Regions from separate parts of the Homo sapiens genome. Here region 2 is linked to region 1. The links come from fine-mapping of genetic effects on gene expression. A gene starts in region 1. The other region holds a variant in brackets. All regions are shown on one strand. Distances are between the middles of the regions.

Evidence for each region. PIP is the estimated chance that this variant, and not a neighbour inherited with it, causes the effect. A credible set is the group of variants that fine-mapping cannot tell apart.
Region 2: its variant is the best candidate, but not a certain one, in a credible set for the expression of CA12 in monocytes after LPS (Fairfax 2014, PIP 0.58).

The regions. Positions count from the first base shown.
Region 1 is chr15:63,374,623-63,389,710 of GRCh38, reverse strand. It overlaps CA12 (carbonic anhydrase 12), which reads left to right and starts at 7,865. Exons shown (of 11, transcript NM_001218.5): 1 at 7,865-8,075; 2 at 14,033-14,053. The coding sequence starts at 7,991. RefSeq lists enhancers at 7,141-7,660, 7,661-8,181.
Region 2 is chr15:63,340,069-63,355,156 of GRCh38, reverse strand. It overlaps CA12 (carbonic anhydrase 12), which reads left to right. Exons shown (of 11, transcript NM_001218.5): 3 at 8,448-8,627; 4 at 9,538-9,680; 5 at 13,060-13,155; 6 at 14,374-14,437; 7 at 14,712-14,869. It overlaps LOC124903506 (a long non-coding RNA gene), which reads right to left. Exons shown (of 3, transcript XR_007064676.1): 2 at 13,236-13,343; 3 at 10,747-11,019. Among named protein-coding and RNA genes, the nearest start is that of CA12, 34 kb to the left of the region's middle. RefSeq lists a cis regulatory region at 8,719, an enhancer at 8,635-8,804 and a silencer at 9,560-9,747. The variant G/T (reference allele first, on the strand shown) is at 8,270.

The DNA.
Region 1 (15,088 bases):
AATTACCAATAATTTTAATAGTATGTGGCATCTCTGAGCTCAGGAATACCTTCTAGCTACAAAATTCCAGTGATCAGGCATTTCCTGTGGAAAAGAGGTTCTAAGCCTACTTGTTTAGAAGGCTTCAACTTATTTCAGTAATAAGACTGGGTTTGTTATGACCAAAGTTACATTCTATGAGAGGCCAATGTGTGGGGGAAAGGGATATCTGGAAATCTCTACTCGTTCTTCCCTGAGGGTTCATGGAAGTTGATGGAGTTGCCCAAACCAGGGTTGGAACTTTGGGAGAAGCAGCCCCACTTCATCCAGTAAGGATGTTTCCACAGAGGACAAAGATCATTGACATAGTACTCATTATGTGCCGCCGTGCTAAGTTCTTCATATGCCTAGCTGATTAAATGTATTCCTCCCTTTCTCCCTTTGGGGTATACTTACTCTAGGACCCTCATCTCTATTTTTCTCTTTCTCTTCTTCTTTTTTTTTTTTTGAGATGGAGTTTCACTCTTGTTGCCCAGCTTGGAGTGCAATGGTGTGATCTCAGCTCACTGCAGCCTACACCTCCCGGGTTTAAGCAATTCTCCCATCTCAACTTTCTGAGTAGCTGGGATTACAGGCATGCGCCACCACGCCTGGCTAATTTTTGCATTTTTAGTAGAGATGGGGTTTCACCATGTTGGCCATGCTGGTCTCGAACTCCTGACCTCAGGTGATCCGCCCGCCTCAGCTTCCCAAAGTGCTGGGATTACAGGCATGAGCCACCGTGCCTGGCTGGACTCTCATCCCTTTAACCAGGAAGAAATCAAGATTCAAAGAGGTTGAATGACTGGCCCAGAGTCACACAGGGTGGTGAATGGTGGAGTTTCAAAACCCAGGTTCGTATGATGCCAAAGCTCTGCCCCCTATACCATTCTGCCTGCCTGACTCCGAACGGAAGTTGTCAGATTTGATATTAGCACTACTCACGTCAGGCTGGCACTTGTGAGCTTGCTGGAATGTGGCCTGTGAATACACTATGGTTTAGAAGACGGGTAGGAGAGGACAGTGCTTCAGACTGAGAACAAGAAGAACAGGAAGGATATGGACCAAATCCCTGAGGCTAGAGGAGAGTGGGTTCCCCAGCAGGTGTGAAAAATGAGAAGGCTGTGAGAAACCTTAAGCTATTACAGTCTAACTATATCTCCTAAATGTCTGAGTGTCAGCTAACCATGACATTGTGAATAATGCACCTGGAAAGAGGTGACACTATTGCACCAAGGTTTACTTCACGTAAAATGCTAAGTTTCCCCATGCATAGAAATTTGAATTATTATGATGTTTAAATTAATCACACAGAGTGCTTTATAAAAGTCTCAGTGAAGAGCTGTTATTCCCCACTCAACAGAAGTAGGAGCTGAAGGACTCAGGGATCAAGTAACCAGACAAGAGTCATCATGGTAACTGGTGTCAGGTATGCAGTGAGAATTTACAATCCCTTGTTGGAATCCAGTTTTTATTTTCTTAGATTAGTAAACCAAAGCTGAGATCAAACACACTTCCTTTCTTGTGAAGTCCACTCTTAGGAGTGACATCTTATGTACGACAAATGTCGTTATTTATTTCTTCCCAAAGTGCTCTCACATATACGGCCTCATCCCACTGCCAACCCTGTGTGGAGTTAGACATTCTTATTTCGACTTACAGATTAGAAAACAGAAGCAGAAACACGGCAAGGGACTTGCTGACATTCCACTGCTGGCTCCTGGCAGAGTCAGAAGCCTGGCATTCTTTCCTCCAGGTCACACTGTCCTCCAACTGATCCCGCCTGAAACTGAGCAGGGCAGCGAGGGTTCACACAGGGGTTACGCCTCCAAGCCATCACCGTGAAAGGGAAGACGCAGATGTGAATAAAACTACAAAACTGGCTATATTTTAAAACACAGACATTGGTACCCAGATCAATGGGTCTATGTGAGTCTTGGCCTAGAGGTTCCCTCAGCCACTGCCCAGTCAAAGGATACAATGTGGACTTTTCCTTCCTTCTTCCCTCCTTCCTCCCTCTTCTCCCTTCCTCCCCCTTCCCTCTCTGCCTCTGTCTTGTCTGGCCTTCCTAAGTCAAAGCAAACCTCGTTAATGTAACAGAAGAGCTATTTGGTATGGCTCACATTCTCCTTCCTTTGCTTGAGACCTACGTCGATTCAAAGCTCTGAGCTCTTCTTTTGGCAAATGTTCTATCCACTGATCACAGAGTATGATACAGGGTCCCTTGGTCCCTCAGACACAGCCATATCCCATGCTGAGCATTATTTGATTGCTACAATCGGTACACGTGCCTCTGATCAACAAACAAACGATCACAGCATCTAGAAAATTGGAGAACCGTAGGCCAGGCATGGTGGCTCATGCTTGTAATCCCAGCACTTTCAGAGGCTGAGGTAGGCAGATCACTTCAGGCCAGGAGTTCAAGACCAGCCTGGCCAACATAGTAAAACCCCATCTCTACCAAAAATACAAAAATTAGTCAGGTGTGGTGGCACACGCCTGTAGTCCCAGCTACTCAGGAGGCTGAGGTAGGAGAATCACTTCAACCTGGGAGGCGGAGGTTGCAGTGAGCAGAGATCACACCACTGCACTGCAGCCTGGGCGACAGAGAAGACTGTCCAAAAAAAAAAAAAAAAAAAAGAAAAGAAAAGAAGGAAAACTGGAGAATCCTCCTCTTAGAGGCACCCAGTAAGAAAACATCTCCATCTGAGGTATCTGTAGGACAGCCATGAAAAGAGCCTGCCTGGGCCTTGGAGACAAAATCATCTGGGTTCCTCATGAACTAGAAAAGATTCAACTTCTCCAAGCCTCAGATTCCTCATCTATAAAATGGCAAACCTAACACTATCCCTGCATGTTGTTGTAAGAATAAAGTGTCAAGCACAGTGGCAGGCAAACAGTAGGTGCTCACTAAATGTCTATTTTCCTCCCAGCAGTCCTTTCTTTAGCTCCATATAAAGGTGCATTCCCAATTGAGTGACACCATTTGAAGAGTTCATTCTTATCTTAAGAAATAAAATTATCACCTTAAGAAACAAAATTCTCTATACTCTAACCTTTATGCCTGAAAGGCTAACAACTAGCTATGTCAGGGCAAATGCCACCAAATGGCACTAGGTTTGGGAAAGAAGAGCCTGGTATGTGCTGTGCATTTCAAAGGTTTTATGAAGTCACAAAACATAATCCTTATACTGATGATGTCTTCCTCACCACCCCAGGACAGAGTGGGCCCCTCTCAGTCATATCTCAACCTTCTATTGCACTCATTAGAGTTGTAATTATATAGTTATTCATGAGATTATTTGTTTTATGTTTGTGCACTCTCCAAGAGCCTAGCATAGTGCCTGGCACATAGAAGATGAATGAATGAATGAATGAAGAAAATGTCCACTGGCCTTATCACCTTCCAGCCATATATCAATTCTATGATGACTCAGGGGTATGGATTACACCTTCATTTTACAGAGGATGAAAGCTTGCATCACGGTCAAGGTCAGCCATTGAGGAAGTGGTGGGGCAGGCACTTCAGCCAACCCAGACTTCCTAACACCAAATCCTTGTTCATTCCTGCTTCTCTGCCCCTTGACTCACCAGCCTCACCCTTGTGTCTATTCAGATGGTAACATCCTAGGGGGTACCATTCCCTGTCTAGGCATGTCATTTGGTGGCCAATTGCCACATTTTGAGTGCAGAAGGTCTACTTTCTACCCTAACTCATTGAGCAATGGGTTATTTATTGGCTGACAACAGCCCCAGCTGATGATGGCACAGCAAGCCCTTGCATGTTCATCTGCACAAGCCTGAGGAAGCAGACAAAGGATTCCCAGAGTTGGGAACTTAAGCTGGTTGGGTCTGTGCTGTTTGTCAGGGGGGGATCCTTGACATTCAACTTGAATACCTGTGGTCATTCCATTCATAATAATAATAATAATTCTGGGTCTCAGTTTACATGCTCAATTCCCTTTTAATTGCTATCCATTATTTACTAATTAACCAAGTTTCTGACACAGCCATGCAGTAAACATCTCAGCCCTGTTCATTCTGTCTATGAAACCCAGTTCACAATCTAGCCTTACTGGTCTATGAAGTCCACCTGTTTCTGCCATTTTAACCTCTCCATCTCTGGGGATCTCTGGAGAATACTTAGAGGTGCATGTTCCAGGAGACAATGAACTTAATGTTTAGACAGACATGATGGGTGAACACCTGGAGTGGGAATACCAAAATATGTGTGCATGGCCCAGTTTACCTTTAACTGGTTGTGACATGCGCAACAAGTGATTTCACCTCCACAGATTCGGTCTCTGCGTCTTTGAGCCTGCAGTGGTTTCTCCCCAAGCTCTGTGTTCCTCTAGTCCATTTAATCTTCTAAACAGACAGACTGCCCTTGATGACAAATCTGAACAAGAGAAACACTCCTGCACCACTCCAGAGCTCACTCGAGGCCCTCTATCAGGCAGAAAAGATGATCCCTAAGCCTACTGTGGTCTGGAAGTGCTTGTAACAAGATTGTCTTTGTAACAACTTCCTTAAGGAGACTTCAAAGCCCTTTATTAACCCACACAGTAGCTGAGCTGGTAGGGACAGAGCAGTAACACCCCTTGAAATGTGGGTGGCATCTGCTTTTTGGTGGCTCTTGGAGGAGAAGTTACTCCATCCCTTCAAACCCACCACGGACAAGTGGCTTCATTGGTCACTAAGGCTGGCCTGAGAGTGTGCACAGGCTGAGGGTCAGCACAGATGTGAGATCAGAGAGGGCTTGTCTGGCTGCTGTGGCCAAGAGAAGAGGGCATGACAGGCCAGGTCACAAACCCAGGGGTCCTGTACCAGAACTGGGGTGGACACCCTTCCGCAGCCCATGTGACCTGAGCAGTGTGCATAGGCAGCAGTGAGTAGGATCATAGAGCGGGGAGGAAACCGAGCCTGGCCCCTGCAGCGGTGCAGAGACACACGGAGGGCCCAGGGAAGCCAGAAGCACAAATGACTACAGTGGTGGCAACAGCAGTGGGAAGATTTAGGGGGTATTGGGGCAGCAGGTTAACAAGACTAGAGAAACACTCCTGTTTCTCTAGCACAGCCTGTAGGTCTAGCACAGCCTGTAGGGACAGAAAGGTGTGATCCCTTTCCTCCCCCATCATAAAGGTCACAGTTGACACTCAAATAACAAAAGACAGGCCAACAAGTGACACAAGAGACTTCAGAAATGAAGACCCAAAGACTCAGGGAGAACGGTGTTTCTGCTTAGGTTTGATGAAGAACATGGATGGCCGTATAGAAATGTGATTGGAGAGAAGGGTGTGATCTCATAGTGATAGACTGAGGGGAACCCAGCAAGGCCTGTCCGTTCCAATTCTTCTTGACCTCTCTGTGTAGCATTGCTTTCTCCTGGGTATGGGGCAGGACCCCTCTCGAATGAGGGTCTTTAAAGGAGAAGGGAGAGGGGAGAGAGTGATGTTTCTAGATTTTATGGCTTGCTGTGGAGGAGAGGGGCTCTACTTTCTATGACCTGCCTGGGGAAGAGGGATTCTGGTTTCTATGATTCACTTAGCGGGAGAAGAAGGGGCAGGAGACAGGAGGATGGGAGAAGGTCAGAGAGACCTTGTTTCTGAGGCCTTTTCAGTTTCCTTCAGTTCAAAGTACTCAGCATGCCAAGGTGCCATACTTTGGGGTATCATGTTCTAAGCCCCCCAAAAAAGTGCCTGACACACAACGGGTGCTCAGTAAATAATGTAAGTCCCTTTCTTCTGCTGCCACCCCAAAAGAGGGACCCTCTCTCCCAGCTTCCTAGTGAGGATGGAATGATGTATTGAACCAGCATGAGTCCCATCTACTTACCCGTTACTAAGGGGAATTGTGATAAGCTCTTCATGTGTACCCCACTGTGCTGTTCTCCTATTCTCAGTTCATCTCTTTGCATCTCAACTTGGAAGGTAAGAACTTAATCAGGATGCACTGAACAATTGGCAGAAACTCATGTGAATGTAACTATCTTGTCCAGTTCCTTAACCTGTGCTAAGTCCAGGCAGGCACCTGAAGAAAAAAAAAAAAAAGCATGAAGGAGGCTTTTGCCCAAATGGCACTATACTTGGGGGATTCTGAGTAGGGCTGAAACAGCCTTTGCAAAAATTATAACTGAGGAAATTATGGCAGTGACAAAGATCAGACCTAAATGACTCAGTCTTTCTTCTAACTTTCATGCTGTCCTTATTCATTCCTGGGCATAGGCCAAACTAACCTTAGAAAGGAATTCAGTTTATGGTTTGACTCAGAAACAAAATCAATAATAGCCCTTTCCCGAAAAGACCCCCTTCTTGCCTGGGTGCCAGTCTGCCTTTGTACGATTAATCTATTAGTTACAACATTAGAAATTATGGTTTAGGGGTCCTGCGGCGTCAGGCTGCAAGAGTCTGAACCTTCCCAAGTTGCTGCTGGGGATAACATCGCTATTGTAAAATCTAACATCCTATTTTGCAGACCCTGCACTGGATGGATCAGCTGACACCACTCAGACCGTGTGTGATCTGGCTCAACCAGTTCTGCGATCCCACCCAGGAACAGAAGACTGCAAGAAAACGTTACTTCAACCCCCCTGTGATCCCATCTGCAACCTGACCAATCAGCACTCCCCAAGTCCCAAGCCCCTATCTGCCAAATTATCTTTAAAAACTCCCAGAGGCAGGGTGCAGTGGTTCAACGCCTGTAATCCCAGCACTTTAGGTGGATCACGAGATCAAGAGATCAAGACCAGCCTGGCCAACATGGTGAAACCCCGTCTCTACTAAAAATACAAAAATTAGCTGGGTGTGGCGGCGCGTGCCTGTAATCCCAGCTACCCAGGAGGCTGAGGCAGGAGAATCGCTTGAACCCGTGAGGCAGAGGTTGCAGTGAGCCAAGACCATGCCACTGCATTTCAGCCTGGGCGACAGAGGGAGACTCCGTCTGAACAAACAAACAAACAAACAACTCCCGGAATGCTTGGGGAGACTGATTTGAGTACTGGAATCCCAGTACTTTAGGAGGCCAAGGTAGGTGGATCATTTGAGGTCAGGAGTTCCAGACCAGCCTGGCCAACATGGTGAAACCCCGTCTCTACTAAAATTAGAAAAATTAGCCGGGTGTGGTGGTGGGCGCCTGTAATCCCAGCACTTTGGGAAGCCAAGGCAGGTGAATTATCTGAGGTCGGGAGTTTAAGGCCAGCCTTAAACTGGCGAAACCCCGCCTCTACTAAAAATACAAAAATTATCTGGGCATGGTGGCATGTGCCTGTAATCCCAGCTACTCGGGAGGCTGAGGCAGGAGAATCGCTTGAACCCGGGAGGCGGAGGTTGCAGTGAGCCGAGATCACGCTATTGCACTCCGGCCTGGGCAACAGAGCGAGACTCCGTCTCAAACAAACAAACAAAGGAACGAAAACCTCCGGTCTCCGGCACGGCAAGCTCTGCGTGAATTACTTTCTCCATTGCAACTCCCCTGTCTTGATAAATGGGCTCTGTCTAAGCAGCGGGCAAGGTGAACTCGTTGGGCTGTTACAGGACCAGTGACAGACCAAGGGCATGCCACTGAAGGAATCCCTAGACGCACCCTTCTGGATGTGAGACAGGCGGATCTCACCCACGCCTGCCAGCAGCTCCTCGGAGAACTGTGTTCCTGGGTCAGCCCTGGCCCAGAGGAGCGCCGGGGACCCGCAGAGTGCTGCTGAAGTCAAGGCTACAACTCACCTAGGATCTGGGGCGCCAGCCCTCCGGTGGGCAGGGCGTTCTCCTCCCCCACCCCCTCCCCGCACGATGACATCAAGTGTTTGGCGTTGAGTTGCTCCATAAAAGCTGCCCGGGGAAGCCAGGAGAGCGAAGGGCGGACGTACTCGCCACGGCACCCAGGCTGCGCGCACGCGGTCCCGGTGTGCAGCTGGAGAGCGAGCGGCCACCGGGAGCCCCCGGCACAGCCCGCGCCCGCCCCGCAGGAGCCCGCGAAGATGCCCCGGCGCAGCCTGCACGCGGCGGCCGTGCTCCTGCTGGTGATCTTAAAGGAACAGCCTTCCAGCCCGGCCCCAGTGAACGGTAAAGTTTCCGCCTGCTTCTTTCCTAACACTCCTGAGCGCTCAGCCGCCCCTGGGCTGAAGGCTCTTCAATGATAAAGTAAAATCATTGCTGCGGGGAGCAGGGAAGGTGTAGTACCAAATAGTAGATTCTCAAGAAAGGATGCTCCGTTTTCCTTTGCTGAGGTTGGGTCGGGAAGCACGTTGCTTTCTAGTGGCGCTTGGCGCAGATTTGGTGTTAAAATGTTTGCGTGTACTCCCGGGCACCGCCAGCTCTGAAGATGTGGCTTGGGAACTTGCTAACCAGGGAGGAGATGCAAAGCCAAGATTTAAAACAGCGTTCCCCTGATCCACGTTTAGAAAGTAGAGACATGACTGTGGCATTCTGATTGGGGTAAGCACAGAGAAAGGTTTGCTGTGCCCCTGTGCAGAACCCGCAGACAGTGGTAGGCGCTTTTCTTTGGAGGAGAGGATCTTTACCATTAAGTCTTACCTACAAGTCAAAGGGATGATGCATCCCATTCTTAATCATTGTTTTTCTCCAGGAGGGCTCTACTATGCTGAATGTACGTGTGTGTGCACGTACACACACACACGCACGCGCGCACGCACACAAACCACACACACACACACACACACACACACAGCATATTTCTGATTGTAATTAGAACACTAAATCCCAAAAGGCTGGAGGCTGAGGGACTGAATGGAGGCTCCGTGGAGTGACAGGAGGAGGTGGCAGAGGGGACCTGAACTGTGGGCTCACGCCGGGCCAGTGAGCTAACACGTGTACAGCCAAGGCTGGTTCATTAATCTTTTGGAATAAGAAAGTGATTTTGGACCGAAAGTGATTTTACTGGCTGAAACTAGATTCTTCCTGGCGAGGCAGTGGTGGTGGGAAATGTGTCCTGCTCAGCAGCATAAAAGCTCTGAGCCTCCTCTCTTGGAGGTCACAGTGCCCATGGGGAAGGGCAGGGGAGCCAGGCTGTGGATAACTCTTAATTAAATTCCAGTCAACTAGCTGGCATGATGTGCTTGATATTATCTCCCTCATCTGGTCAGGGAGAAACAGAAGCGATGTAACAGAAGTTGGGAGAAAGGAGCGATGTAAAAGTGAAAATCAAGTTTTAAAACCACAAACTTTACATGTTTCCTTTTACGAAAGCTGCACTGAGACCAAAGTTTCCCTGGAAATCTCTTTAGTCCTAAGTTGCTCCAAGACCAAAGGGAGAAACAGCCATTAGTTGGCCCTCTTTCCTATAGCTGGTTGCTCCTCTCACTCTGGGGCAGCTCTGCCTCCCTTCTCTCTCTTTTCCTGCCCTTCCCTGTTCTCTTCCCTCCCTCCCCTTCCTTTCTTCCCTACTTTCCCTGCTCTTCCTCTTCCCTCTCCCTTTCCCTCCTCCTTATCTCCTCTCCCAATTCTCCAAGTTGGGACTGGGGAAGTTTGTAGTCAAAACTCCACTTTCGCCTCACTCTGAGGAAGGAGACTGCCTACCCCTGGGTAGAGCACAGCTTTTATTCTGTAAATTCTCATGCAGTTTCCTTGGGTTTTTAACTGCCTTAGAGGACAGGTCAAAGCAAAAATCACTGAGGTGTAGAATGTCAGCATGAACCCAAAGTTGGAGGTGGAGAGGAGTTAAGCTGAGTAATGGGGTCAAAGTGTGATCTGCTCTCTGCCTGGTGCATTTAAACTTCCAGCATTGGAGAATGTTCAAGAACAATGTCAGGGGCCCAGGAGGGAGCATAATAATGTGAAGTCAAGTGTCTTCTGGAGAAACCCTTGGAATTCTTAGTTGCCGTGGCTTTGGGGGGCATTTCAGTGAATTCTGCAGAGCTTGCCCTGCCCAAACCTGGTGTGGAGAGCCAGGCAGTCTTGGGCTACCCAGGAGATGGTTACTCAGGGAAAGTTCTAGCACCCAGCACAGGAAGCAGGCAGGGCCCAGGACCTCTGATATGGATCTTGGTAAATACCATTTTCTCTGGGCATTCCCTCCAGGGGAACCTCCCTGCCCAGTACCAGCTGGGTCTGCAGGTTCTAACAGGTTTCAGGCTGAGCCTCCCAGGTTTCCCAGATGGAACAGATAACCTTCCTTGGGAAGGAAACTATTCCCCTCCAGGAAGGGCCTGCTCCCTCAGGATGCCACTGAGGCCTTGGCCTGGCCTCGCTTGTGGAATCAGTTTAATCCTTTTAAGCCTTCTGTTCTTACAGCTAGAAGTGGGGAACCAGGGGGTGCAATTCCTGAATAAAGCACACTTTCGTGCGCGTGCACACACACACACGCACACATACACACACTTTTAGAGAGACTTCCTGAGGTCAGAGCTGAGCTGGGGCCCTGATCCTCACCCGATGAACCCCCTTGACTCACCATCCTCACTTACAACGCCGCTTCTCCCCAGCCCTCCAGCTCCTGAGCCCCTCCAGACACTGCCATTTATACCCAAAGTGCCGAGTCTGGAGTCCCAAGCCAGCTCACTCACAGAGAGGAGGGCAGGGAATGTTGCTCTGGAGGCTGCTGCCTTTCAACAAGTCCCCAGTCCTATGTCACCACCGCGACCTCACAGTCCCAGATGTCCACTCTATGACTTTTAGCCCTGAGCTTTCCAGAGTGTGATGCTGAGGCCTCATCTGAGGATGAGAACTCCAACAACAGGGAAAACCTTGATTAGCGAGCCCTGGGAGGGTAGCAGAAGATGTAGGGTATAAGGCTATGATTTGAATGTGAGCAGGTACAATGCAAACTGCTGGCAAGGCAGCAGTGCTCAGGCAGCAGATGTGTTTCTAGTGGCCTCCAGGATCACTGGAGTGGCCTGTGCCTCCTCAGGGGAAAAGTAAGGGTGAACTCCTCTGTTATTTGTGGAATTTTACATCCTGGGCCTCCAACTGTTCTGCCTGCTAAGAGGTAATGATCTGGCTTATTATATCTCTAAGGTCTGGGATTACATCTTAATAATGAACCTCTCACACAAAAGACTGAAGAAAATGTCCAGAAGAGGTTTTATGTCTTCTATAGCTTGGTTTGAAAGCAATGCTTTCTTTATTTTTTTTCATTGTTGTTTCAGCAAAGGGGTGAGCAGTAAACTTGGGGGTCACATACAAGTTTGGTTTCCCCGTGGTTCTGAATGTCTAATTACTAATTCAAGGGAGGTTGATCTTGGGACCCTCAACTCTCAATGCACCCATAGCTGGTTTCAGGGGAGTCTGTGGACCTTCTGAAATGACTTGTATATAAAACTTTATGTGTCTAAGCTTAGGGAAATTTTTTTTTTGAGACAGAGTCTCGCTCTGTCACCCATTCTGGAGTGCAATGGCACAATCTCAGCTCACTGCAACCTCCGCCTCCCGGGTTCAAGCAATTCTCCTGCCTCAGCCTCCCCAGCAGCTGGGATTACAGGCACCCGCCACCACGCCTGCCTAATTTTTGTATTTTTAGTAGAGACAGGGTTTCACCATGTTGGCCAGGCTGGTCTCGAACTCCTGACCTCAGGCGATCTGCCTGTCTTGGTCTTCCAAAGTGCTGGGATTACAGGGGTGAGCCACCGTACCCAGCCAGCTTAGGGAAATTTTTACTGGGAGAGGTCCATAATACTCATCGGATACTCCAGGGGGTCTGGACTCCTCCACTTAACTACTCCAAAGATTGAGGAGACTTGAAGATTCCCTAAGTTCATGGCACTAATGCTAAATTAATGGTAAATGCGGTGGGACTCCTTCCAGTGGGAATATGATATTGGTCAGGACACTTCACCTTGGTGGACTTTCATTTCCTCACCTACAAAAGGAGGAGATGGGCTATGAGTGTAAGAAAGAGATCTGAACTCTTCTCTTCCAGGGTGGGATGTCAATAAATAATGCCTAAACATAAAACAATCAAGGTAAAACAATATTAGCATGTTATATAGAGATATGGAGATAATAGCAAAAGAATCATTTTAAAAAGATCCAAAGTGGTTGCTCTAGGGAGCAGTACATGGTTAGGGAATGTCAGGGAACTGAGGTTTTTGTTACACAGCTTTGTAGAACCATCTGACTTTCTAAACCACGTGCAAGTGTAATTTGATAAAAATTACCAATTACATTGGAAAATTAAAAACAAAATTAATTACAAACACTGAGGCAAAGAAATGGAACAGAATAACAAAAAATATGAGATTAAACCGGCTTTTTTTTAAAAAAAAAGCCAAGTTCACTTTTTAACTTTTAAAAAACACAATTTCCTTAAGTAGGAAATGCCAGGAGTGATAAGTGACCAGATTGCTTGTCACTTAAGTTTTACTGCAAACTAATTCCCACGAGAGAAAGGGGATGTGAGGTGCTTCCCCACAAGGGTACGCTTTTCCATCTGTACCCTTGTGGGTCGAGAACCACGGAGACCCTGGGAAAAGTTGGGAGGCAGGGATTTAGGAGTTGCACAGTCCCCTCATTGGATGAGTCACCTGAGACACACAGTGGGATGCTTCTCTACTCAGGGTCCCTTCCTCGGAGGTGAAGAGGAAGGCCGGCAGGCAGGGTCACAAGAGCACAGCTCTGCACTTGTGAAAAAGACCTTTTTTGACATAGGAACGAAGAACATTTATGCATGAAGAGTGTGGAGTGCGAAGTAGTGGGTGACTTTTGTTCTCTTTCTGGCAGAACTTTGCCTACACATTCCTACTACCCCTGGAATTCTAACTCAGATGTGGGTAGCAGCTTCCTCAAAGAGAAACTTTTTCCCAGCTGGGTGCTGTGGCTCACACCTGTAATCCCAGCCCTTTGGGAGGCTGGAGTGGGCAGATCGCTTGAGCCCAGGAGTTTGAGATCAGCCTGGGCAACATGGTGAAACTCCATCTCTGTGAAAAATACAAAAATTAGCCAGGTGTGGTGGTGCGCGCCTGTAATCCCAGCTACTAGGGAGGCTGAGGTGGGAGGATTGCTTGAGCCCAGGAGGTTGAGGCTGCAGTGAGCTGCGATCACACCACTGTACTCCAGTGACAGAGTGAGACCCTGTCTCACAAAAAGAAAGAGAAAGAGAGAAAGAAAAAGAAAAAGAAGAAAGAGAGAGAGCGAGAGAGAGAGAAAGAAAGAAAGAAAGAAAGAAAGAAAGAAAGAAAGAAAGAAAGGAAAGAAAGAGAGTGGGAGGGGAGAGACAGAGAGAGAGAGAAAATGTAAAGTGGGAAAAAGCAAGACACAGAACACTATTTCCAGTATGCCAATGTTTGTGTGAGGAGAAAGAGGGAGATCAATGCATATGTGTGTGTAGCCATGCCATGAAAGGGCTCCCAATCATCAGCTAACCTCCTTGTCTAATGGAAGCAGGGAAGGTAGAGTGGGAAGAAGAGCTTCTACTGTATATACCATTTGATGGCTTTTGGGTTTTGAGCCACATGAAATTATTGCCTATTCAGGTAATAAAGTTTAGCTTCTCTAAGATGTCTGGAAGGCACCTGCTCAAGAACCCCCTCCTGCTTCCATGAGCCTCTGCATGAACCAACTGCCTGTGCTGCTGACTGGAGCACAGTTGCCCTGAGAAGCTGCTGTTCTGATGCAGACTCAGAAAAAGTTTCAATTTGGCCGGGCATGGTGGCTCACGCCTATAATCCCAGCACTTTGGGAGACCAAGGCAGGCGGATCACCTGAGGTCGGGAGTTTGAGACCAGCCTGACCAACATGGAGAAACCCCATCTCTACTAAAAATACAAAATTAACCAGGCGTGACGGTGCGTGCCTGTAATCCCAGCTACTCAGGAGGCTGAGGCAGGAGAATTGCTTGAACCCAGGAGGCAGAGGTTGCAGTGAGCCGAGATCGCGCCACTGCACTCCAGCCTGGGCAACAAGAGCAATACTCCACCTTGAAAAAAAAAAAAAAGAAAAAGAAAAAGTTTCAATTTCTGGGCATCGACCTCCTTTTCAATTTCGCTCATATCAAAACAAAATCTGTAGTGTTTTCCATTACTCATCTGGTTCCATTGTACTTACTTACTGTGTTTTGTTCTTTGTAGGTTCCAAGTGGACTTATTTTGGTAAGTAGAGATTTTAAATACTTTTTTGTTGAAAAGAAAATAGAAATGGTTGTATTTAATGAGAAAAACAGAAACTTCATGCTCTGTGGAGGTGATTTTGAAGGGTCGGAAGCACAGTTCTTGTATTGTAGAAAGAGAGTACAAAGGCATCTCCTAAGAACACTTCAACTTGGGTTGCATACTGCACTTTCTCCAAGCAGGCGAGCCTGCTCCAGGCACAGGACTGTGAGTCATAGTGTCCAGGCTTCAGATTCCTGCAAGGATTTCTACCAAACCTCCAAGATTTGGAGGTAACTTGCCCCACCTCCGGACTGCAAGGGTCCTGGGCAGGAGAGAGCCTTTCTCCCTTGCAGGACACATATCCTATTATAAACAAAGAAGAAAGGGCTCCTCTCTGAAAGTTTGGCTGAGGTCCCAGAACTTAAGCTGTCAGTATGTCTAGAATTAACTTCTTGTTGCCGTGATTGTAAGCTAGCGATGGATGAAGAGGTGTTGGTCAGTGCTTAGTGAAAGAGGGATGCTTGTCTTAAATGAAGCGAGAGGAGCACCAGTGTGCTTGTTGCCTGGGCTTTCTGTGGGACGGTCTCCAAGAGCATGTTAGCCCCATCTGGCAGGCCTGCCAGAGAAGCAGCTGGAAATCAGCTTAGCTGGAGAGTTGCAGTGAATTAGAAATTGGTCATTGGCTGGAATGGATGTGGCAGGCCAGACACCTGAGTCCCCTGGCCAGTGCGGGAATGTTGATAATGTCTTGTTGGGGCACAGCCACAGAAGATGCACAAGATCGATTGTTTTGGTAGCAGAAGGGTGGAACTGACTCACTGGCACAGGAGGCATTTTAAGCAAGCAGGGTTGTGGCCAAAGTTAAAGCCACAGGATGCAATGGCTGTGGGCGGGGACAGGCGGGAAGTTGATTACTACAGTGGAAGCACCGTCCAGAGAAAGATCTGACACCAATTTGCATAGGTCAGCCTTTGGAGGTTCACCAGCCCAAGATGCATAGAAAAGTCACTGAACTGACCAACCAGCTACCCACAG
Region 2 (15,088 bases), 35 kb after region 1:
ACACAGAAAAGTCCAGAGAGAGGTGGGCAGAGCCTCTCCACGATGAACATACTCTAAGGTCACAGGTCATGAGAACCTAAGAGGAGGTTAGAAATGGAGAAGCAAAAGCAAACAGATCGTCACCCTTTACCTTTGGCAGCCTGGAAACCCCACCCGCCTCCCTGTAATAAACCTCATCTCCAGAAGGAACCTGATGCAGGCCTTGACACCAGTGTGTAAATGACTGCGGAGCCTTTTTGTCCCCGCCTCATCCCCCACCCAGCAATATTAGACGGGGATTATTGGCGGGGTGGAGGAGAAGGACTTCCTGAGGGTGGGTGGAGGGCTGAGCTGGCAGCCCCAGCCTTATGGTTCACCTCTTCTGGCCTCCAGCCTGCACTCCTGGCCCCCACCACCATGGCTGGATGGGAAATGATTCCCATCTCTCTCTGTGTTAATACATCCATCAGTCCTGCCCCTGTGACTAGAGCCACAGAGAACACAGCTAAGCCACAAGACTCAGAGGGAACAGCAGCCTTCATGTCCCCTCTAAATCCATCTGGAAATCAGACATCCTCAGGATGGTGTCTGCATGTAGAAGCCACTTTTTTTGTTGTTTAGAGATGGGGTCTTGCTATGTTGCCCAGGCTTGTCTCAAACTCCTGGGCTCAACTGATCCTCCTGCCTCCCCAAGGGGAGATTTGGGGGGATTTACCAAGCCCAAGTCTCAACCCTCCGTCTCCAGCTGACCCAAACAAAAATTAGACAAAAGTTTGATGCAAAGTATGGATTAAAGCATCTTTAGAAAATGTGTTTATTTTTATTGATCTATAATGTAAAATCCAAGAAAAAGAGTTGGCCTGCTATGGCAAGTCCAGCTTTGAGCTTTATTCATAACAAGTAACCCTCCCCTTCTAGCCCTCCCTCACTGTCCCGGGACCACCTCTGATTCAGTGGTGATACTGACAAAGGAAAACTCTAACGCTAGTTTGATTCCTCGCCCTCTGTTTGTACATAATAACATCATAAGACCTCATCCATCAATTATTAACCCATGTCCTTGGTCACCTCCTTTCCTTCTGGGCAGGACATTGGGGTTTATGACTGTGCCTCTCCGCCTACCCAGCAGGAAAACAGGTAGAATTCAGCAGGTTGTGGCCTTCTGTGCGGTGGGTCAACCTCTTACCAAGGTGATGCTGTGGGAACCACACTACTGACTGGCTGAACCCACTGGGTTTTTATGAGAAGACATAGATATTTTAATCAGCTTCAGAAGTGAACTGCAGGACCTATAAATATATTTTAAACATGTTTTTAAAATGTAGCTTCTAGGCTGGGTGCAGTGGCTCACATCTATAATCCCAGCACTTTGGGAGGCTGAGGCAGGAGGATCATTTCAGCCCAGGAGTCTGAGACCAGCCTGGGCAATATAGCAAGACCCCATCTCTTTAAAAAAATGGCTTTTACATGCAGACACCATCCTGAGGATGTCTGGTTTCCAGATGGATTTAGAGGGGACATGAAGTCTGCGGTCCCCTCTGAGTCCTGTGGCTTAGCTGTGTTCTCTGTGGCTCTAGCCACAAGAGCGGGACTGTTGGATGACCCCCAGAGAGAGGCAGGTACTAGCCTCCCAACAGGAAGACCTTTCTAACAGATGGAGGAATGTACACAAGCAGGTGTCAAATGATCCTAGCTCAGCCTTGGCACAGGGCAGGACCCAGACCTGGCAAAGGGAGGCCGGATGGATCCCAGACTCTTTCTGAGTCAATGCATCACACATCCCTAGAATATACCAGCCTCTCCACTGCAGCGGGGCCTCTGAGCTTGCTGGGCCCTCTCTAGTGAACGCCATTCCTCACGTTTCACTCATGGTTGGTTCTACTTGTCCTTTAAATCTCAGCTTTAACGGCGCCTCCTCTGGGAAGCCTGCCTGCATCATCTGCTTGACAGGGATCCCTCCATTTTTCTGTTGCAGCCCTCGTTTAATTCCTTTGCAGCGCTCATTGCAGATTGCAATTATTTCCTTGTGCATTGGTTTACTTGTTATTTATTATCAGTCTCTTACACTGGTCTGTGAGTGCCGCAAGGTCAGAGACTAGAGCTGTTTTGTTCTCCATTGCATCTTCAGCACCTAGTACAGTGCCTGACACATACTAGACACATTTGTTGAAGAAATGAATGCATTAACTCCAAAATTAAATTGCACTCCAAGAAGGAGAGCATTTAGAGATTTTTCTCCTTCATTCAACATTTGAGTACTCGTTTTTTATTGCAAATACAATCCATCTTATTAAATGTGTATTCAAATTTGGTACATAATTTTTGATCATTTTCATATAGATACACATGCCTTTCATTATGGTCAGACCTCCTTACAAAACAAACTTTGAGGGACTAACCAAAAGCTATCATTGTCCTGAAATTGTGCCTATTTGTTGAAAAAGGGCGTGTCATCATCTAGAATGTGTAAACTTTGCCACTACAGTGGTATCCTTTGGGGCAAGTTTTGATCTGACTGCGTGTTGGTAGCCGGCCCAAAGAGATGTACCCTGGAGCTTGGGCCCAGGCAGGTTCTCCAGGAAGCTGCCTGCAGTGAGCACTGACACAGACACAGGGGGGTCCACCTCAGAGTATGACCTCCAAGAAGTGTCATGGGGCAGAATTAATGTTGACTCTGGTGCCTGGATCCCCCCACTGTCTTCTCATGGCTACCTTTCATCAGTGAGCCCCTCTTTCTTCTGTCTCCAACCTTCCTTCTCTGGTCTCTTTTGCCGTCTGCATAGCAGTTTGCTCAAGCCTCTTCATAAAAAACAAAAACACAGGCTGGGTGCGGTGGCTCGCGCCTGTATTCCCAGCACTTTGGGAGGCCAAGGCAGGTGGATCGCTTTAGGTCAGGAGTCTGAGACCAGCCTGGCCAACATGGCGAAACCCCATGTCGACTAAAAATATAAAAAATTAGCTGGGCGTGGAGGCACGCACCTGTAATCCCAGCTACTTGGGAGGCTGAGGCAGAAGAATTGCTTGAACCTGGGAGGCGGAGGTTGCAGTGAGCTGAGATTGCACCACTGCACTCCAGCCTTGGTGACAGAGCAAGACTCAGTCTCAAAAACAAAAACAGAAACAAAAAACAAAATCTTTCACATTACCCTCACCTTACCATAACCACCACGCATACACCCTTCTCTCATCCCTTTATGGCTAAATTTCTGAAATGAGCTTAAAAAAACCCTCCACATCCATTCAAGGATGTGTTCAGACATAAGTAGGGATATGACATAAAGTTCTGGTCTTCCAAAGGTCTTTGAAACTCATATTCTGAGCTCTAGTCTGTAATAAGTTTCTGTACTAGTCTGGCTCTAACAGTCACAGGTGAGGCAGGCTAACAATCATCACTGCTTGCTAGTGTGCACAACCCGAGTAGGCTGGCCGAGAAGTTCAAGTCAGGGACTAGAAAGCACTGGGGTAGCTTTGGCAGGACCTGAGCTGGACTTTGAAGAGTGGACGAAATTTGGAAAGGTGCAGAGGAAAGAAGAGGGCATTTGAGCAGATTTTTTCATAACGGCATTTGTGAAGGTGGGTTGGCATAGCCTGTTCTTAGGCTCAGGGAGCTGGCTGAAGCATGGGGCAGGCTGGGGCGGGATGTGGGGGCCTTTGAAGACTTTGACAGGTTGGGGCACTTCAAGGCCATGAAAAACAGCTAGGCTGTGCTTTGTCTTGTTGGGGTGGGGCAGGGCATGCTAGGGAGAAAGGGAGTGTACGGATGGGTGGTGGGGTGGTGCCACCCAAGCCAGGCTATGACAAGATTGATCTGGTTACTGCAGGAGAGCCAGCCTGGCAGTGTAACAAGGAAGGCTGGGGCTGGTTGCCTGTGGGAAGCCTTTGCAGTGTGACATGGCGAGGGCCTAACCCATGGAAGCATGGGAGTCCATGACCCACTAAGGGCAAAGGATAGACCAAGCTGGCTCTGAGATGTTGAGCCTTGGAGGAGCGGGGCCCAGGTGTTCTCTGATGAGGCATTCCACCATCAAGCTGTAATCTAGGCCATAACACATCCTCTAATTGCAATATTGCAAAAAATATATGGACTGTATGTGAACCCTGAAATTTACAAACTGTTAAAAATTTATGACCTATTTGGAAAAATTTGAATTCTAATTGGATTCGGTAATCTTAAGGTATTAATTCTTAACTCTCTAGGTGTGGTCATGGTACTGTGGTTTTAAGAGCCCTTATGTTTTAGAGAAACATATGAAATATATACAGATGAAATATATCTGGATTTGTTTCCAGTTATCCAGGTAGATAAGGGGAGAATGGGCTTAGCATAGATGAGGCAGGACTGTTTCTGAATTGTAAACTGTCCAAGCTGGGTGACATGGGGTTCATTCCACTCCTCTCTCTACATTGTATACATTTGAAATTTTCTGTAAAAACATTCTGGTCCTTGGATAATGCAGGTCCTACACCCTGGGCCTCAAAATTCCCAATCAGAAATCACGAGAGGCATTTTGAGCTGTGCCATGTTAATCTCTTGTTACCTTTCGAAACAGGAATTCTGACCACTTCTGTTTTGCCTAGAGCAGGAAAAACACATAGACAGGAAAGAAATAATGCCTTGGCTTTATTTAGAAAAACAAACTGTGAAAGACACGTGATCCTCCTGTATCACGATCATGGGAGGAGTCCAACCAACTGGAGAGGCGAAGTCAAAACTCAGAAGAGCAAAGGCAAAGTTTTAGCTGGAAATAAATGCTTCTTTTAGGAGAGTCACTCCCAGTGGAGGATTTCTGGCAGTGGAGCACTTGGCATGAGTGTGAAAGCTGACACTGAGTTGGAAAATGGTAGCCCAGGGTGTAGCGGCCAGCATAAGGCCAGCACTGTGCAGTCACATGTCACAGCTCAGGGAACAGAAAGGCCTGCTGTTGTCACCTCTGATATTGGTTGTCCCGGTGCCCACCCTCATGGCACCTCTATCTCTCACATGCCACAAAGACAGGAGGCTGCTCTGACAGTGTCCCCAGCTATGCAAGGCGGGGACACCCACTAGCCATTACATGCTGGGGGAGGGCCCTATGAACTTCCTTGGCAGGCCGTCTCCCAGGCTACAGGGCAGAAATCAGATTTCTTTTTCAATTAGTGCCCCCAAACAGAAACCATTTGCACACAGGTAAGCTAGAAAGCTAGGAGGGTACATTTTGAACCTGAGCAAGTGATCTCATTTTTCCTCCTCTTTTTTGAGGAGAAGAAATACATGAGGGAATTAAGGTGGGTGCACGTTCCCTGGGAAAGGAACAAGCATGAAACAGGTGTTGAGAGTTCAGCTTAGTAAACATGTGAGGGCCCACTCTGTGCCAGGCACTGTGGGAAGTGCAGCGATGGATGAGCCGTGGTCCTTGTCTTCAAGGACAGCGTGGGGAAGCCAGGAAATTCCAGGTGCACAAAATCTCCTGGATAAATACTGAAGGACACATAAGTCCTGTGACCCAAGCAAAGTAACTGTTACTTAGCCAAAGTCAAACTTCCGGCAAATCTCTTAAATCTCTATTTTTCACCCATAAAATGGTGCAATTCTGCCTTGCTTACCCCGTAAGGTTATAGAGTTATAAGGATCAAAGCTACTACAATATAATAACAATGAGGAGGAGGAGGAGGAGGCGAAGACAAGGCTTTCTTGACCTTGCTGACCTACAGACCTGTGACTGGTGCCCAAGGACGAACTCCGCTGTGGATGGCAGCCAGGACCAGGGCAGGTTCCTGATGCAGATGGCTGTCTGATCCCAGCCAGTCCTGGAGCACCGGTGCCCTGTGCCCTCATTCCCGAAGCTGGTTCCCCTGGGCACCTTGTCACATGCCCAGTAGCTGCCTTGACATGAGCAACCTTTCTGACTCATTCAAATTTGCCTGACAGATGGAGAAGGTGCTTAGTCCTAGTATTCTTAATAAATATCAGAGCTTAAGAGCCAGAAGGAACCTTCCAGAACATAGCTTCCACACACATCCCATCCCCACCACTACGCCCACCACCCCCACCATTTGCACGAAGGGCAATGGAGGCTCCAGCAGGGAACATAACCCACTGAAGTGTTGGGACAGCTGATGCTGGAATCTCATTCTCTGGACTCCCCTGGTCCAACATAGCTGCTTCTCTTTCCAAGACAGGTTTTGCCAACACCAACTCTACTGCCTTTAATATCCTTAGTCTTTCCTGCCCCCCAAATACCTTATTTGGTCCTAACTTCCAATAAAGCGTATTTAGAGCAAGAGAAAAAGGAAACATTCCCCAAGTCACATTTTCCCAAGCCCTCTGTTCTTTTTCACTCTTTGGGAAAATGTTTCCTAAATGCCCATGGGGGCACGTGACCCTACTTATAATATGGGTTCACAGAGACGAAGATGAGGGGTCCCTATCTTCACGAGGCTCTCGTTTAGCTATCAGTAAAATGCCCTCTTGATGAAACCTTTTTGAACCTCCACTGTGGGAAAAGAAAACCCTTCTAATCCAGTTCCCTTTAGTCATGTGTGCAAAGAGAAAGCTTCTCAATGATGCATCTCTTTACTTCCTGAGTTTTTTGCATTCATGCCTGGCTGGCAGCTTCCGCCCTGCTGGCTGTGGGCCCAGGCAGTATTGTGAGCACAGAAAAGGCTGGCAGCCTCACTTAGGGAGTCTTACCCTGTGCTGTGTCTCTTCCTGACCCTGGGGTTCTACATGAGGCCTCACGGTTGCTTCATTCTGCTCCCCGCTGCCCCTAAAGCATTCGGTTTGGCCCCCAGCTGAATAATTGTCTTACTCCAGTTTGGCCCTGGAGTGCCTGCTTTGATATCCTCCAGCCTCCCTCTTCCCTAGTCACCATCTTGGTGTAGTTGAGTTATTTTGAGGCCTTGAAAATAAGAATAGTAGAGCTCAGCGGAGACTCTGCCATGCCCAAGTGAGAAGACTGGTGTCCAGTGAAAGGTTGGACTGGAGATTCTGCAATTCCGTCATGCTGTAACATTTCTGAAAATGCATAGCCTAAGGTTGACAGCCTGAAAAATCAGTAGGGTTCCGATGTGTGTGTCCGGACCTAGAAGTAAGAACTAACTAAGCCTGGGACCAACGCCTCATAGCATTTGAAATGAACCTGGGTACCAAGTATCACTTCGGATTCTTCCCACTCTCAGATACGGTCCCCTAGTTAGAGAGCACGATGTAGGGGGTTGGGATTCTGTGGGGCCAATATAACATTTACACCCTTGTGAAACAGTGCAGGGGTCTACAGAAGAATTCCCAGAAGAGGTGGTGTTCCTTTCCCCTTTTCTCTATTTACCCACCTTCCTTGTGTTGAAATACTGATGAACGGACCCCCAGATGGCAAAGCTTGATCCCCAGCTCTGATAGAGCCCACAGGACACCCTGGGTCTACCCTAACGAGCCATGACATGCCAATTCTTTGCTTTTCTGGAGAAACCTTGGCCTGAAAGTCTGTTTAATTACCGTGGAGATAATCTTTTAAACATAGATTTACATTCTTTAAAGACTTTTTCCCTGTGGGAGTAGGAAAGTTCATCTGCACATAGCATGTTTATTTTCATTTCCAGGGGAGGAACTGCTATCTGGTAGTTAGCAAGAAGCTTGAGCCCTGGAGGAATTTCTTTTTTTAAAGTCTGTTCCTCTTCACTGATAGTGTGTCAATTATATTGTAATAATTAGTTTATAGTGTGGTCATATTTTTTTCCAGCTTAAACTCTGCACTTCACTCTGTGATTCCAGGCCTATAATTATTTAACATTTGTCAATCATCCCTATCAGATTGGGTTCTATAGTTACTCTAAATGTGGGTATCAAGAGTCAATGTCCTCAGGGGTTTCTCTTCAGGAAGGTCATACTTGCAAAGCCAGCAGCCACAAAGACCTATTTAGGTTGGTGCAAAAGCAGTTGTGGTTTTTGCCTGAAAGGAATGGCAAAAACCGCAATTATTTTTGCACCAAGATAATACTTGGCACTGTGGTCAGTAAGACACTAATTTTTCCCACCTGGGGTGGCCCCGCAGATTTGCTAAATTCTTCCCCGCTAGAATGCCAGCTTGGATGAGCAGGGGCTCTATTGTATTCAACCTGGCAGCCCCAAGACCCAGAGTAATTCCTGGCTCATAATAGGTACTGGCTAAGCAGATGCTGAATTGCTGAAAGTCAACAGGTCTTGACGTGTGTGTCAAACAGGAACAATGTACAAAATAAAGCAGAGTTCGGTGGCCTTCTGGCTCTGGCCTGTGCAGCCCTAGTCCTTCTTTCCCCACATCACTTAAGAGCAGGT[G/T]GTCCTGAGTGGTTGCTGGACCTGATTCTGGAGGCCAAGACTCTGAGCCTTGAAGATTTACCTCCGGGGATTCAGAAAAGAGGAGAAAAGGAGTAATTGTATTGAACAGAGAATTAGAAGATAAGGAAAATCCCTTTGTGAGAAACTCTAAATCTTGAGCATGGATCTCTGTGTCCAGGTCCTGATGGGGAGAATAGCTGGTCCAAGAAGTACCCGTCGTGTGGGGGCCTGCTGCAGTCCCCCATAGACCTGCACAGTGACATCCTCCAGTATGACGCCAGCCTCACGCCCCTCGAGTTCCAAGGCTACAATCTGTCTGCCAACAAGCAGTTTCTCCTGACCAACAATGGCCATTCAGGTGAGGGAGAGGCCTTGGAGACCTGAGGGGTATGTCTGAGTCTCCCTCAGCTGCCAGGCCTGTCCTTTTCCATCTGGCAGGGAGGTGTTCCGTGGAAGCATCCAGGAGGAGGGGTGGGGCGGGGCGGGGGTGTCTTTGAGAGATTCCAGGAGCACTCTCTCCAGGGGATGCTGGAGGCTCTGGGCTCTGAGGATCCTGCCAGGGCCGCACTTCCCAGAAGAAGCACATCTCTCAGGATGGGGCAGGAGACCGGCCTGAGCACTGTAGTTCATTGGCTGTGCAGCTGGAGTGAATTCTGGACCATAAACGATTCAAGGAACCACACAGTTTGGCGGGGGGTGCCCAGGCTTTGGAGTCAGACCAACCTGGATTTGAACTCTGGCTTGACTGCTTACGAGCCATGAGAATCTAGGTGAGAATTTTAGTCTCCTTGAGCTTCCATCTGGAAATGGACATATTGATGGATACCGTGAAGACTGGAGATTATGTACGTTGGGGTCTGGCATACAGAGTGAAGTAAATGCTTCATAAATAGCAGTTATCGTTGCTGTTGCTATATAATTCTAAAGCTTGGAAGGTACTTCACTAAAGGTGTCTGATCCATCAATATGTAAATAAACACCCATCCGTTGGTCTAGTGTTAGCGTTTCTGGCATCACTTTCCAAGGTGAACCAAGAAGGTGCTGGTGCCACTGGAGTTGCTTTGGGGAAAAGGGAACATTCTCAGGGAAAGAGCCCAGGTGTCTGACCTTTAGGCTGCATCTCTGCTCCGCACCTCACTCCATCCACCTGCCTCTCTCTGGGCTCCAGGGGGTGGCAGCAGGGGTGGAGGGAGCATTGCCTACCTGACTGCTCTCTGGCAGTGCACAGCTGGCCGGGGCTCTGAAGGCTGCTCCTCCACTCCCCGCAGTGAAGCTGAACCTGCCCTCGGACATGCACATCCAGGGCCTCCAGTCTCGCTACAGTGCCACGCAGCTGCACCTGCACTGGGGGAACCCGAATGACCCGCACGGCTCTGAGCACACCGTCAGCGGACAGCACTTCGCCGCCGAGGTAAGTAGGGCTGCCAGTCTGGCAGAGGCTGCTCTGCAGTGGGTGGTGTGGCACCTTCTCGACCTGGCTGCTGTGCAGATAACACCAGAGCATGGGACAGGCTGCCTTCAGGCTCTCTGCCCCACCTCTGGCCCTGGCACAAGGGGCGCAGCCACTCCACTAGCCTGTAGCTCATCTGCACTGTCCTGGTCCCTTTCTTCTCCTGAACATGCTAAGTTTGTCCCTGTGTCTTTTACTGAGTGATGCTGCTGGGGAGGCAGTATTCCCAGGGTGGCCCAGTGGGACATACATGCCCTTCTTTTAGACATTGCCTTCCTATCTGTGCAGATAAAAATCTCCTGCTGACTCACACTGGGCTCACTGCTCCCCCAAACTTCTCAGCCTTTCTTCATATGTCATGCTGTTTGCATCATTTTGATGCTATCTTTCCCTCTCTGGGCATGGGTTGTGTTTAGAACATGGGGACATGGGTCTAGGGCCACCCTTCTACCTGGCCACAAGTCTAGGGGTACCTGGCAGTCTAATGTGCAGGGCATCACGGCAAGCAGACTCACTAGGGACAAGATGTCAGCCAGCACAGCATCGTGTCATGTTGCCTTGAGAAGCTACTCCGAAATGCCAAAAGAAAATTAGAAGACGGGCAGAGCATTTGTCCTATGCAATTGCAGGATGGGGTGGGGCAAGGAGGGGGTTGAGATGCTCCATTTTGGCACTCCAATAGCCCTGAACTGGGGGTGTGGCTCTGAATATTTACAGGGAAATACAAGCAGATAAATGCTGCTGACTGATCAGCCAGGGGAGTCCGTGGTAAATAGAGACCATTCCCCTCCAGTCATAACTGCTGAACTGCTTAATGTTTCAGACTAATCATAGGTCTACTTGCAAGCATGGAAGGGATAGGATCTGGTTCAATAGGATGGTACCACTGGAGGTTCACATATTTCAGAGCGGCCCTTCCCTGAAGCTCAAGAACTGAAATTTCCTCCAGGCTAATTGCAGTGTTGAGACTTCTGCTTCCCCCATGGGGAATAAAGAAGGTGTAAACCAAAAAGTGTCTGAGACTCAATCCATTTAGAAGTTTATTTTGCCAAGGTTAAGGACACATGCCCGGGAGACAGGGAGACAAGTCTGTGCCTTTCTACAAAGATGATTTTGAGGGCTTCAATATTTAAAGGGGAAAGGGCAGACACTGGGGAAAGAGGGAGAAATGTTTAAAAGGTGTGGGGAGGTAAGAGGCAAGAGGTCGCATTCTTCTGAGTTTTTGATCAGCCGTTCACATGTGAGAGAGGGGTAGAGGAATAGTCACTTGTGCATTCATCTAGCTCAGCGAATCTGCATTCTTACAAAATAAAACAGACATGGGCAGAGGAAGCAATTAGAAATGCATTTGTCTCAGGTGAGCAGAGGGATGACTTTGAGTTCTATCCTTTGTCCTGAACCCATGAAGATAAGTTATCCATTTACATTGTCACGGTGAAATTCAACAGAACTGTTTTAGGGTAAAGACCTTGCGGCCCACAGTGAATTTCCTAGTGGGCAAAATGTGAGGTGTGTTGCTTTTTTATCTTTGTAGCCGTCTTATTTAGGAATAGAATGGGAGGCAGCTCCCAGCTTGACTTTTCTCTTTGGCTTAGTGATTTGGGGGTCTCGAGATTTATTTTCCTTTCACAAAGGAGGTTAGGGTGTAGATTGGCAGGGTTTATGTGTTTTAAAATATTTCTACTTCTTGTATTTTCTGCTATTAAGTCACAGCATCAGACCAAGAGTCTGGTTAAGATGGACCATAAATGCCAATACTAGAGAAAAGGCATCAGGGTGTCCCTAAAGTGGGTCCTCTAAGGAAGGACCTTGGAAGTGTAGTGGTTCTTTGGGATGGAGTTCATATAAGAAGATTCTGGTGGGGCATGTTGGCTCACACCTATAATCCCAGCACTTTGGGAGGCTGAGACGGGTGGATCACCGGAGGTCAGGAGTTCGAGACCAGCCTGACCAACATGGTGAAACCCCATCTCTACTAAAAATGCAAAATTAGCCGGGCTTGGTGGCACATGCCTGTAATCCTAGCTACTCGGGAGGCTGAGGCAGGGGAATCGCTTGAACCTGGGAGGCGGAGGTTGCGGTGAGCCAAGATCACGCCATTGCACTCCAGCCTGGGCAACAAGAGCGAAACTCCATTAAAAAAAAAAAAAAAAAAAAAGATTCTTTCTATCTTAATCTCCTCAACAGGGAGCTCCTTTATGCTTGGATTAGTCTTCACTTCCTCTGAGCACAATAAGAAAAGTACAGACAAACCACAAGCTCAAAGGTCAGCTGTAAAAGGAAATAGGGGCTTAGGACCTCAGGGGTTTTAATCATATAGAATTCAGCTCTGTTTCTCAAAGTGATGCCAGGCCGAGATGGTGTGGGCAGTGTGGCAGACTAAGTCCTTTGAGGGGAAGATGGTGAAGTAGGAGCTCTGAAGAAATCCTTAATAGAGGACCACTTAAAAGAAGAAATAATTTGATATATAATTTTTTTTAAGTTAGAAGGAGCCACTTAAAGTTCGAAATGGGAAAATTAAGCTGTATTCAATAACATATGTTGAACTGTATTTATAAACACATGAGATGGAAAAGGATGAATGAAAAGAGAAAAGAAATAGAGTTAAAATCTCAATATGTCATAGTCTCAAGGACAAAGAACCAGCAAAAATGCATGGGTTGTGTAAACCAAAAATAAATTCTAAGCCCCCCACCCCACCCACCTGCCATCTGAATGGACCTCTCCTCTTGACCAAGGGCATTCCAAAGTTAACATGAAAACTAGTTCAGGCCATGATGGGAAGAGGGAGTTGGACATGACCCATTATACCCTCCTCCCTTTTGGAATTTAGGAAAAGCCCACATTCATTAACATCAACACAGACCTTAGGTCTGATCAGAAATATTTACAGTCTATTCTCTCTGAAGCCTGCTACTTGTATTCTTCCTCTGCATGATAAAATCTTGGTCTCTACAACCCCTTATTGGAACCCAGACATTCCTTTCTATTGATGATAACTCTCAACCGATTGCCAGTCAGAAAAAAGTTAAATCTACCTATGTCCTGGAAGCCTCCAATTTGAGTTTTCCTGCCCTTCCAGATCAAACCAGTGTATCTTGTACGTATTGATTGATGTATTATGTCTCTAAAATGTATCAAAACAAGCCATGCCCTGACCACCTTGGGCACATGTCCTTATCCTTGGCAAAATAAGGGGAGGGTCTGAGAGACCTAACCTAGTCTGGGGGGCTGAGGGGGCTGGGGTTCTGTCCTCACAGTTGGAGTCAAGTCTTCTGCAGAAGCGACAGGCTCCCATGAGTCGCTTATCTCCTAATGGGTGGCTTCTCCCCCACTGCAGCTGCACATTGTCCATTATAACTCAGACCTTTATCCTGACGCCAGCACTGCCAGCAACAAGTCAGAAGGCCTCGCTGTCCTGGCTGTTCTCATTGAGGTAAGAGATATTTAAAAGGTTCTTAGGTGAAATTTGAAGCAGGGATGAGATTGGGATTCCACCTTTTGTTCCATGCATACCTGTTGATAATCAGCTGTTCCTGTATCGACTCCGTGTCAACTCCAGAGCAGGGGGTATCCTCCTGTAGTGCACCTTCTCTCTTGGCCTGGAGGCAGCACTTTCTGTGCCTGGGCAGCAGAAATGGGGAATGTTCTTTGGTCCGTTGGAAAAACGGGCCCCAACATCTAGCCCTGTTGCATAAGGCATGGAATTGCCCAGTTGGGGAGGACCTGTGCTGGAAAGGGATCATCAAACTCCATCTGCCCCATCAGATGCCTGAACTCTTGATACAACTCCTGCCATCCAAGCTCCTCTAGATCCAAGGGACCTCTAGATCAGTGGTCCCCAACCTTTTTGGCACCAGGGACCAGTTTCATAGAAGACAATTTTTCCACGGACCATGGACCAGGGAGGGAGATGGTTTTGGGATGAAACTGTTCCACCTCAGATCATCAAGCATTAGTTAGATTCCGTAAGGAATACACAGCCTAGATCCCTTGCATGCGCAGTTCACAATAGGGCTTGTGCTCCTATGAGAATGGGAGGCCTCTGCTGATTTGACAGGGGGCGGAGCTCAGGCTGTAATGCTTGCTTGCCCGCTGCTCACCTCCTGCTGTGCGGCCCAGTTCCTAACAGGCCACAGACCGGTACTGGTCCACAGCCTGGGGGCTGGGCACCCCTGCTCTATATGTACCCTGGAATGAATTCTTTTTTTATCCCAAGATAGAGGAATGTCTTCTGATTGGCTTGCATGTTTTTTTTTCCTAATGAGGCTGTATGTACCTCATTTCCCAACATGCTCATTTGTCTGACGTGGCTTTTGTGAACTCAGAGCTCCTTAAGTTCTGTGTGACATGGATGTTAGTCAAAGCCTTCAGGCTCATATCTGGATCATCAAGAGCACACACGGTACCCTATGCCCCAGGACATTCAAGCCCAACTCCTTAAGCTGAAAACAGGACGTCCTGAGATGCAAGAGGCAGGACCATTACACTAACTCCCAAGAGCCTAGTGATCCATCATAATTGTCCAGTAAAGTGGATCCTTCAGGCAGTGGTGGCAACATACCCACAGCTTTGCCCTTCTGATAGCAATCGTCAATCCTGGCTCAGCCTATCCTGTTCTGTCCCAGTTTAACCTGCCCTGTCTCTGTTGCAGATGGGCTCCTTCAATCCGTCCTATGACAAGATCTTCAGTCACCTTCAACATGTAAAGTACAAAGGTGAGGGGTCCTTGCATGCATATTCACTCTCTGCTGGAGAAGGAGGTAGTCAGCCCTGTGTGACTTTAAGAAAAGCAAACACAAGGGGCAGGTGCTGTCTGTGTTCACCAGGTTAAGAGCAGCAGGTTGTTGAACAATGTTGCAACCAGGTCCTGGGGTTAGATGACCCTGAAAGGGGCTAGTTCATGTTTCTAGGCTCAGTCGCTCTGTTCAGCTGCACTTATGCCCTACGGAGGGAGGCTGACACTATCACCTCTGCAACATGTCTCTCTAGGCCAGGAAGCATTCGTCCCGGGATTCAACATTGAAGAGCTGCTTCCGGAGAGGACCGCTGAATATTACCGCTACCGGGGGTCCCTGACCACACCCCCTTGCAACCCCACTGTGCTCTGGACAGTTTTCCGAAACCCCGTGCAAATTTCCCAGGAGCAGGTAACTGTCGTGCCAGACTCAGCCAGAGTCCACGCGGCACCTCAGTCCCCATCATCCTCCATATCACAATCAATGACTTGATTTCCTCATTTAGTTTCATTGGCAGCTCTTCAAAACCTCTCCAAATATCACAGGTGTCTGAAAGCACCGCAGAAATTCCAGGCTGAGCTTCAAAAGAAGTCAAGCTAGGCAAATGAATAGATGTCTCCTAGTTCTTTT